2 separate regions of the Homo sapiens genome follow, and region 1 is linked to region 2. The links come from fine-mapping of genetic effects on gene expression. Tissue or cell type: whole blood. Region 2 holds a variant in brackets; the other region holds the start of a gene. All regions are shown on one strand. Distances are between the middles of the regions.

Evidence for each region.
Region 1: it holds the start of ISOC1, and the variant in region 2 is fine-mapped to the expression of ISOC1 in whole blood (TOPMed, PIP 0.93).

Annotation. Positions count from the first base shown.
Region 1 is chr5:129,092,468-129,097,850 of GRCh38, forward strand. ISOC1 (isochorismatase domain containing 1) reads left to right here and starts at 2,282. Exons shown (of 5, transcript NM_016048.2): 1 at 2,282-2,608. The coding sequence starts at 2,300. MIR4633 (microRNA 4633) reads left to right here and starts at 5,221; the gene lies at 5,221-5,299. LOC124901060 (a long non-coding RNA gene) reads right to left here and starts at 4,312. Exons shown (of 2, transcript XR_007058926.1): 1 at 4,082-4,312; 2 at 459-2,932. RefSeq lists a silencer at 1,900-2,679.
Region 2 is chr5:129,116,195-129,121,577 of GRCh38, forward strand. No RefSeq gene overlaps it. Among named protein-coding and RNA genes, the nearest start is that of MIR4633, 21 kb to the left of the region's middle. The variant TATCTG/T (reference allele first, on the strand shown) is at 2,156.

The DNA of each region.
Region 1 (5,383 bases), 24 kb before region 2:
AGGGAGTAATTGGTTTGTCAAATGTTGCTGTTAACTGGGAAAGGTGAGAAATAAGCCTTTGTTTTATCAGTCTATTGAGATTTTGGGGTTTGTTTCTGTAGCATATTAATGTATTAATCAATACTGTGTAATATACCTTCTTGATTTTCTTGGAATTTAGATTCTAAAAGTAAGCATTTAACATTAACTAATAAAGCTACTGAGAGTCCTATATGAGAAAATTTTGGGCATTTGGTCCATAATATGATCTTGTCAATTAGAACAGTTATTTTCTACTTGTCATTTGAATATTCATTTATGGGGTCTTACTCACTTTTTCTGGTAACATTTATAAAAATTATCTTAATAATTGTATTTCTGAGGATAATAATTTATCACTGAAATGTGCATTCACCTCCCTTTTGCAGCCCAGTGATGCAGAGGTTGATACACAGTTGATATTCAATAAATGGTAAATGTGCCCATCAAATATCTATTTTATTAATGTTATTTAACATGCTATTACCACAATGATTGCACCATTAAACTAGGTTGTCAAGGACCAATCTCAGACAGCACAATATATATGGAAGTTGATTTCCTTACTGAAGGGTCAGAAACCTAATTTAAAAACATGAAAGGGAAATGAAGTATGTTGACTCACGGCCATGAGGGCCACGGCAGAAGACTGTGTAGATGCCAAGGTCCTCGCTGAGGATGTCTGAAGTCTAGGCCAATCTCTAATCTCCAACCTACTCTGTGTTAGGAGGCTTTACAGGGTGGAAGGAACACTTTTATTAGTCCACCCAAAATAGGTAGGTACCTTTTGGTAATCAGGTCTTGAGGGGGTACACTTATTAGCACAAATCAGCATATCTGCATATAGAAGACCTTGCAATGGAGTGGTATCCGGAAAAAAATATCATTTTGGGTCTGACGGGTTCAGACAACACTTTTAAATGGGATCTCTCAAAGTGTGATGAGAACCAGAAAAAAATGGCTATTTCTAGTAGCTTCGGTACAATTGAGCAAGAAACACCAAAGGATGGTCTTTTCATAACTTTAAAGCAGTGTGGTTCTCAAGTAGGGGGTATATTTGCCCTCTGGGGAATATTTGGCAATGTCTGGAAACATTTTTGATTGCCATAACTAGAGGGAGGAGCGGTCACTAGGCATCTAGCGGGAGTAGAAGCCGGTGATGCTGCTAAATATCCTGCAAATGCACAAGATGCCCCATCCCCAAGAAAGAGAAATGTCCATTCCAGAAGTCAACAGTGTCAGTTGGGAAACCCTGCTTTAAAGGTTATTTTCTTAGAAGAGGACAGCTTTAATACCTAAAATCTAATTTTATGTTTAGGCCCATGCCTATCTTCGCAGGACTCAATTCCAAGGAAATTCTGTTCATAATGCATGCTTTCTAATTCCAGTTAATTATAGCGCCTTACAGTGTGCAGAAGGCAGAGGATTGTTTTATTTGAAAGTGATCCCTTTTACTTACTTAAAAACAGATATCCTTAGTTTCAATATAAAGTTCAGATTTTTGCTTTTAATAGTATTTATATTCCCAAATCCAAGTCCTCCCAGAAATAGGTTGAGATGAAGGGAGGCCAGATATCAAATCCATTCCTAGAGATATTGTGTTCTGTGGGACCGAAAAAAGACAAAACTTGAACCTTGACTGGCCCTCTAAGGATTAAATTCTGCTGCTCTTCTTAGGGTATCTATCGGACTGTCCCTTTGGTTGTAAGATACCACTGCCATCTCGAGGAGGACTGCATGCTTCTGCACAGAGCCAACAGGTAACTCGTCCTGGCGGCTCTGTGTACCCAACCACAACCCTAGACTGCCAAGAACACTGCTCATTCGAAGGCGAGCGAAGCCGCGAAGAGGGCCAGCGTTAGGGGAAGGGTGGTACAAACCCTTGTGTGAGCTGCAGCACCGGGGCAAGAACAACGGGCAGCCCAGGCGGGTCTTGGGTCTGCGAGACCACTAGGCGTTCTGCCGGCAGTCAGAACCGCGGCAGAAAGGGCGCGAGCGGGGAACTGCGGGAACGCAGCGGCCCGGGAAGCTGGAGGGGGCGGACCCGGCCGGCGAGCGCAGGCGCTCCCTGGCTCACGCGCGCACCCCGGCCCCACCACCCACCCTTACGCCGCGGCCCGCCCTCCGGGGCGGGTAAGAGAGCGCGCGAGCAGCGGTCGTCAGGACACGCCCCTTCGCCTCCGCGAGCTGGCGGGCGGGCTGGCATCGCCGGGAGGCGGGGCCGCGGCAGCCGGCTGGGTGCGACTGGGCGGCCTCGGAGCTCGCAGACGCTCGGGGGAACATGGCGGCTGCGGAGCCGGCGGTCCTTGCGCTCCCCAACAGCGGCGCCGGGGGCGCGGGGGCGCCGTCGGGCACAGTCCCGGTGCTCTTCTGTTTCTCAGTCTTCGCGCGACCCTCGTCGGTGCCACACGGGGCGGGCTACGAGCTGCTCATCCAGAAGTTCCTCAGCCTGTACGGCGACCAGATCGACATGCACCGCAAATTCGTGGTGCAGCTGTTCGCCGAGGAGTGGGGCCAGTACGTGGACTTGCCCAAGGGCTTCGCGGTGAGCGAGCGCTGCAAGGTGCGCCTCGTGCCGTTGCAGATCCAGGTGGGTCCTGCGGGAGGCCGCGCGCTTCCCTGTTCCCGAGTCGTCCCCGTCCCCGTCCCTGTCCCCGCCTTCGCCGCGCTCCTCAGGTGCCCCGAGCCGCCCGGGACCCGGGCCCTGCGCGAGTGGCTGAGTCCGAAGGGCTGCGCGTCTTTCGCAAGTTCCGGGGCCGGCTGGGGAATGCCCCTGTCCAAAGGTGATGGTCACCAGCTGTCCCCGGCGGGGGCGTGGGCCTCGTAGCTGGTTTCAGCGCCCGCGAACGCCCCCACGTGTGTGGTCCTCGGTCGCCCGCATCCGCTTTTTATGCCAGGATCAGGTCCCAGCCTCCTGCGTAACCAAAGGGCTGTGCTGTAGTAGCTGTTTTTATTTTGGGGTGATGGGTGATGCAGAATGGGGGGAAATGAGATTGTGGGGAGTATTGGTCTTAGGGTTTGTTCCTAGAGTTGTGTTAACCACTTGCGGAAACGCAAACTTTGGGAGTCAAACCCATTCCCCCCCGCCTTCCCAGGCTCTCAGGTCCTTGGGCTTAAGAGTTCCCTAACCTTAAGCAAATAACCATTTGCTTAGCCTCCTCTTAGTAAAGTGTCTACTGACTTGATTACGTTTTGTCGTCTGCATTGAAAAAGTCATTTGACTCCATGATTGTAATTCCTTCTTGAATACAAATACCCAACTTAAGCTAGACCTTGAGTTCCTGGGCCTGCTGGCTGGGAAAGTTGTTCTACCTGAGGACTACTTAACAGCATTTATTTTAAGCTGTGCTCTCATGCTAGGCGGGTTAATCTTCCGCCCTCTTTAGGATCAGATTGTTCACTGGCGAATTTATATTTTGGAAAGGAAAGAATATAAGGTATAATTTAGGTAGTACACTGTCGATATCATTTCTTTAGCTGAGAAACTGATAAGTCATTTTTTCAGAAGACCAAACTGAAATGTGGGATTCGGGGATAAAAGGTATTTTAATATTTAAGTGTCATTTTCTTTCTTTTTTGTTTTTAGTTTTTATGGGCACATAATAGTTGTACATATTTATAGGAGACGTGATATTTTGATTCAAGCATACAGTGTAGTGATCAAATCAGGGTAATTGGAATATCCATTACCTGAAACATTTATCATTTATTTCTTTGTTCCAAATTCATTTTTGTAGTTATTTTGAAATATACAATAAATTATTGTTAACTATAGTCACGCTATTGTGCTACTGAACACTAGAGCTTATTCCTATTATCTGTGTTTTTTGTACCCATTAACAGTGCCATTTTCTGAGGATTATTCCCTAGTTTTTTTCCGCTGTAGTTGGCAGCTGAATTGATGATGTTTCCTGTCACCCCAACACCTGTGCCAGAAGTGTCCAAAGCAGGTACTTTAGCTTCGATAAAGTTCCTGCATTCAGAGGACAAAGTCAGAGACTGCACTCTCTGCCAGTGGAGAACCTGGAACTGGATACAGTGATCTGATACCCCAGAATCTTACCTGCTGCTCAGATAGGGAATTGCAGTTCTTAGGTGCTTAAGACTCCTCATTTTTATGTCTTCAAGCGTTTTCGTGTCTGACACCTCTCTGCAGCCTTCCTTGTCAGTCCTTTTACGTTACTGCTGCCAGAATACTCAGATGTTGGATGCACCTTTGAGAAGTCCATTTATAAAGGCTAGAATCCAAATACTAACTGCGGAGGTCTGGGACTAAGGATGCAGACTTCTTTATGAAGCATTTCCTGTTACGGCTTGGAGGGAGGCTGGGCTCTTATCTAAGATAATGCTATTCTAAACTAGGCCCCAGCTCTGTAAGAGTCCCCGCCTTCCAAGATAGGATTTTTATATTTGAAAATTTCAGGGCCTTGGTCTGGCAACTCTTAAAAACATTCTAGAAATTAATGAAATGTATGTACCTGAAAACGCTTGTACATTCTCAAAAGGCGTTATATAATTCTGGTCACCTGTAGCTTTTGCAGTGTTTTGCTTGGTATAGGAGATTATGTATAGTTCACTTTTTTTTGGTGAGGTTTAAAATAACAATAGCATTACTCTACTCCCTCTTCAGAAGAAATTTTTCCGCCAACTAGTCTAATAATTCTTAAGCATTAGTTATATTTTTGCATTTATATAGCTTTATATTTTTAATTCTTTAAAAATATTTTCTCTTCTATATTATCTCATTTTAGTAGTTATACTTTGACTTCTTCAGCCTGATGCCTCTCCTAGCTTAGAGGTAGATAAAGGAAGGGGATAGATACATAAATATGCACACACTGTGTATCGTATATACCTTCTGATACCGATTTATGTCTATATGAGAAGAGAGAGATATATATACACACATACATATATATGCATATGTGTGTATAATCTCAGAAAGTCATGATATTTCTCATGACTACTGTACACTATATTCTTTGGAACCTAACAGCATAATCCTAGAGACTTGGATGTTTTATGGCTGTAAGAGACCATACAGTTCATTCCACAACATGTGAGTGGCAGCTTTAAATGCCTGGCACAGTGAATGCAAACTTGGATTCAATTCTTGTTCCTTACCTAATAAATGAACTTTCACTTTGAGGAAGTGCAGAAGAACATAGGGAGGTGGAGGTGAGTAACTTGCTGCAGGTTACATGGCAAGTCTCCGCATATGCCTGGCTAGCTCCTCCACAAATGCGTGTGGAGGAGCTAGCCAGGCATATGCAGAGCGTCACTTACAGCCGAACACAGCACTACTGCTTGCATGTTTAATGAGAATTGAGCAGTCTGGAAAACAAGTCACAAACTTGAGCTCTTG
Region 2 (5,383 bases):
CCCTGGCTGTAACCTTAAATCTAGTCTTATTTCTTCCTTGATGATTTTCTCTAAAGCACATTTCCTAACTAATTTGGGGAAATGGCTAAAATATATGAAAATTAGTCATTTTCATTATTAATTTTGAATTAATTTTCCCACATCATTAAATTGATTAGTGCTTCCTTAGTCCTCTATAGAGCATTCTTTCACCATGTAAACTTTGATTTAAAATATTTTAAAAATCATTAAGCTACCATAATGAGATTTATCAATTACCTAGATATGATTGAACTGAGTTTTTTAAATATGTGGAGTTGGCTTTCAGAATTTTTATGTCATATTGCTTTCCTTTAAGTTGTTCCTAAGTTTTACTTACTGTACCTTAACAGTAGACCATCTTATCAAGAAACCTTATTTCTGGAAGACAGGCTCCTTGATATACGGTAAGAGAGTAGTTCTTAAATGTTCATGCACACACACACACACACACACACACACACACACACACCTGTGAGATGATGGATATGTTAATTAGCTTTGCTGTGGCAATTATTTTACAGTATATATCATATATCAAAACAGCACACACCCTAAATATTTGCAGTGTTTGTCAATTATTTCTCAGTAATGCTGGAAAAAAATTCAGCATTGCATTTATATACTTAAAGATTTTTGACCTGCAGTATGTAAACCTATTAATTCCTATTGGAGAGATTATAATCTTGATTTGCTTGCTATAGGAAACAATTCTGAAATGGACCCCAAGAGTCCCACTTCTCTGGTATACACACACCTCCTCCCGATTATGCAATCAAATGCTAATCTAGGTACCTAGGTAACAGGTGTGGAGAGTTTTTGCTGAGGTAATTAAGGTCTCAAAGCAGTTTACCTTAAAATAGGGAGACTAGCTTGGTAGTCCTAAGCTAATCAGCTGAGCCTTTAAAAGGGACTGGGCTCTAGCTGGCGAAAGAGATTCTAAGAGTGAGAGGTCTCCGGCAGGAGAGAGATTCTCCCTTGCTGACTTTGAAGATGTAAGAGACCACATGGTAAAGATGTGAGGATCCTATCATTTGGAAGCAGGCCTTTGCCAGCAAGGAAGCAGGGACCTAAGTCGTACAACCACCATCACTTAATTCAGCAAACAATGTGAAGGAGCTTGAAAAAGAGATTCTTCCCCAGAGCCACCAGATAGAAGTGAGGTCTGGCTGACATCTTGATTTCCGCCTGTAAGACTCTGAGCAGAGAATCGCCATGCTGTGCCTGTACTTCCGACCTACAGAACCATGAGGTAATCAATTTGTGTTTTAAGCTAATAAATTTGTGGTAATTTGCTATGCAGCAATAAAAAATGAATACTTTTGTATTTGGCTTTTTAAAAAAATGGCAATCATTTTTATTTGGAGAGAGCTGTCTTACTAAACACGCAGGACTTCAGGTGGATATTATCAGGCTCACTTAGTGTTTGTAATAAAATGAACTTTTTTCCCCAATTAAATAAAAGCATTGTTTTTGAAATTAGTCCTTGCCAGAATACTGGGTTTACTCATTGATTTTTAAAATTTTAATAGCATAACAGGCAAGGGTGTTTTAAGAAAACAAGAGTGTGGAACTGTATTGTGAAAAGCAAGAGTTTCCTATTCCTTCCCTTTGCTACCCTACCCTTATTCTTATTCCCTGGAAGAAACCACTCTAACAGCCTTTTTGTCTTCCTCTGCCAGCTGCCTTCATAACTGAATAATATGCTTATGAAAGGTGTTATTTAAACTTTTAGGTAATGTCTACTAATTGTTTCCCCTGGAAGATCAGGATTTTGGCTTACTTACATTATCTTATCTCCACATTGCTCCTCCTGCATGTATCATCATTCATGCAGTTTAGTTATATTTTCAGTTGTACTATCTATGTTATTTGGTAGAATCGACCTGTCTTTCTTGTCCTGGACATGGACATCTTTGTGGACTGTCCATCTGCCTACCACAGACAATAACTGAAATCTCCCTGAAGGTTCAGGTCCCAAGTCGGGCTCCTTATCACTGGTTTCCTGGTATGCGCTCCCCTCTCCAGCATTCTTTAAGTCCTGGATTCAGAGAGTGAGAGAAATGTCACAGCACAGGTGATAACTGCAGAACAGGAAAGGGCAGAAACCTCCTCCCCTAAAGAGAAGGATAATTCT[TATCTG/T]AGGTGTGTAAAATCAAACGTCTGTATTTACTGAACTGAACTCTCTAGCCCTGTGTTTCTACTGATGTGGAAAACATAGCTAAATATAATCACTCCAAGATCTCATTGAGTTTCTTTTGGGGTAAATAGCTTTGTTCTTCAGAGGCTTATTTGCTGACTGGCCCTTGGTCTTTGGCTTTTCTCCAAATGTCCAGTCTTCACAGGTTTCTGGTTACAGACCCTGTCATACTGCTTGAATTGTGTATTCCCCTTGCCTCCCCAGTTTCATATTTTTACAGCTCACTCTGCCTTTTGTTAACCACAGATTTTCTCTAGGGCCTCTGGCCTTTTCTCAGCCTTATTCAAACTTTGGAGTTTGGGAAGATTTGGGATTATCTCCTGAACCAGCCTGGAGCTGAGAGGGGAGAAGTGTAAGGAAGGATGCTCTGGGCTCTGTGCCAGGTCATCCCTTCCAAGGGGCTTTAATGAAAATTGAAGTATGGATCGGCTCTTAAGCTTTTTTACATTATCAGGTGTTTCCTCTTGCTCTCTTTCCCCAATTGTTCATTAGAAACCATATCAGTCAGGGTTGAATAAGAGAAACAGACCAGTAGGAGATATAAAGTAATTTATTGCAAGGAATTTGCTTACCCAATTTGAGGGCTGTCTAGACAAGCCTGAATTAGTATGGCAGGTCATCAGGAAGGGCAGGATAGAACTCTGTGGTAGAAGCTGACACTGCAGTCTGTAGGTTGGAACTTCTAGGAAACCCCAGTTCTGCTCTTAAGAGCTTCCAACTGACTAAATCAGGCCTACTAAGATTATCAAGGATAATCGCTATTCCTTAAAGATCATGAACTTCAGTCACATCCACAAAATAACCTCACAATAACACCCAGACTAGTGTTTGGATAGCTGAGAACTTAGCGCCCTGCCAAGTTGACACATAAAGCTGACCCTTGAATGAATTATTATTCAATAGCAATCTCTGCCTGAGAACTTAGAGTAAGACATTGTCTCAGTCCATTCAGACTGCTATAACAAAATACCATAAACTGGGCAGCTTATAAACAACAAATTTATTTCTTGCAACTCTGAAGGCTGGGAGATCTAAGACCCGTATGCTAGCAGATTGTGTCTGGTGAGGGCTCCAGTTCTGGTTCACAGGGCGTTCTTGCCTCTCACGGGTGGAAGAGGGCAAGACAGCTCTTTGGAGTCTCTATCATAAGGGTGCTAATCCCATTCATGAGGATTCTGCCCTTATGATCTAATCACCCCCTAAAGACCACCCATGTCCTAATACCATCACATTGGTATATGAATTCAACAGGAATTTGGGTGGGGGAAAGGAGGCACAAATATTCAGACCACAGCAAGCATTTTGACAGAAAAACTTAGCTTCTATTCCTGTGTCTAACAAGTCATTTTCTACTGTGTGAATCTTGGCTAGCTGTGACTGCTGTGACCACTGGAGTATGGGGGCAATGACACCATGTAAGCTCCGGGCCTTGTCTTTAAGAGGACTGACAGCCTCTGGGTGAACTCCTAGAGCCCTGAGCTATCATGTAAGAAGTTCCAACTCCCCTGCAGGAGAGACCATGTCTAGCATCTTCCCAGTTGGTAACATCCCCCTGCATAGTTTTTGTTTCCAAAATAATAACCTTTCTTGTTTATAGTATTTGTTGCCTTCTGATTGTGATAGACCTTAGGCCATCTGTCCATCCTCCCCTACCTGCTTGACCGATTCTGTTATCTATTGCTGTGGAATAGATTATCGTGAAACCTAGTAGCTTAAAGCAAGAACTTACAGAACATGATTTTGTGAGTCAGGAACTGGGTTAGAGCTTTTTGACTCTTCTACCCTCCAACATGGTATTGATTTGAGTAACTTGAGCTGTTCAGCTGATAGCTGGGCAGGTCTGGAGGGTCAGAGCTGGCTTTACTTACACACCTGATACCTTGGCAGGGATGGCTGGAAGGCTGGGCTCAGTTGGGTTTCCCCATCTCTCTCCATGTGGTCTTAGGGCTTCCCCACGTTGTCTCTCCTTCAGGGGAGTTGTACTTTCTTACATGGTATCTGAGGGCTCCAGGAGACCACAGCAGAAGATGCCAGTTCTCTTAAAGAGGAGGTGTGGAGCTGGATTGGTGTCATTGTCCCCACGCTCCAATGATCACAGCAGTCATAGCTAGCCAGACCCAAGGGAAAAGCCGGAGTCCCCAGTCTTTGATGCAAATCTGCAGCCATCTGTAATTCTCCTTATTGACCTTATCTCTAATCCTTTGCTCCCTGTTTACCTTATCCAAGGCACACTCCAGCCTCTTACTGTTCTTGAACATCTTGGGTACACTCTGCCTTAGGACCTTGGCTTTTGCTGTACTCCCTGCCTGACCCTATCTTCTCCCAGATATCCCCATGCTTACGACTGTCATATCTTTACTCAAATATCATTTCAGTGGACCTTTGCAGACTACCCTATTTAAAATTAGGGTCCTTCTTCCCACCACTACATGTGTAGTTCCTACCCACTTTTCTGTTTTGTTTTTTCCATCCCATTTGGTGATATCTAACGTATATTTTGTTTTAAAAATTTTGATTCTTTCCAAGTAAGTTTCTTTCTTTTTCTTTTTCTTTTTTTTTTTTTTTTTAAGATGATGTAGTCTTGCCCTGTGGCCCAGGCTGGAGTGCAGTGGCGTCATCTCGACTCACTGGAACCTCCATCTCCCGGGTTCTAAACGATTCTCCTGCCTTAGCCTCCCGAGTAGCTGGGACAACAGGCACCCACCACCATACCCGGCTAATTTTTGTATCTTTAGTAGATACAAGTTTTCACCACAGTGGTCAGGCTGGTCTCGAACTCCTGACCTCAGGTGATCCACCCACCTTGGCCTCCCAAAGTGCTGGGATTACAGGCATGAGCCTCCATGCCTAGCCCAAGTAAGTTTCATGTGCATGAGGATTTTTGTATGTTTTTTCACTGTTTATCCATATCCTCAGCTCCTAGAACTTGCATTTATCACAGAAGTTGCACTCAGTAAATATTTTTGAATGGATGGGAAGATTCAAGAAGCTTCTTACACCTTGCTTGCTTCTTGGCTTATAAGTTTTATCTCACAAATTTAAAAATACTCAATTTGTTTTTGAATAATGAAGTTCACCTAATTATGGTTTTTTCCCTAAATACCCATTAGGTCATAGGGAAGACGAGGAGAGATATTTTTGTGCTAAATGTCTCATACTCAGTAA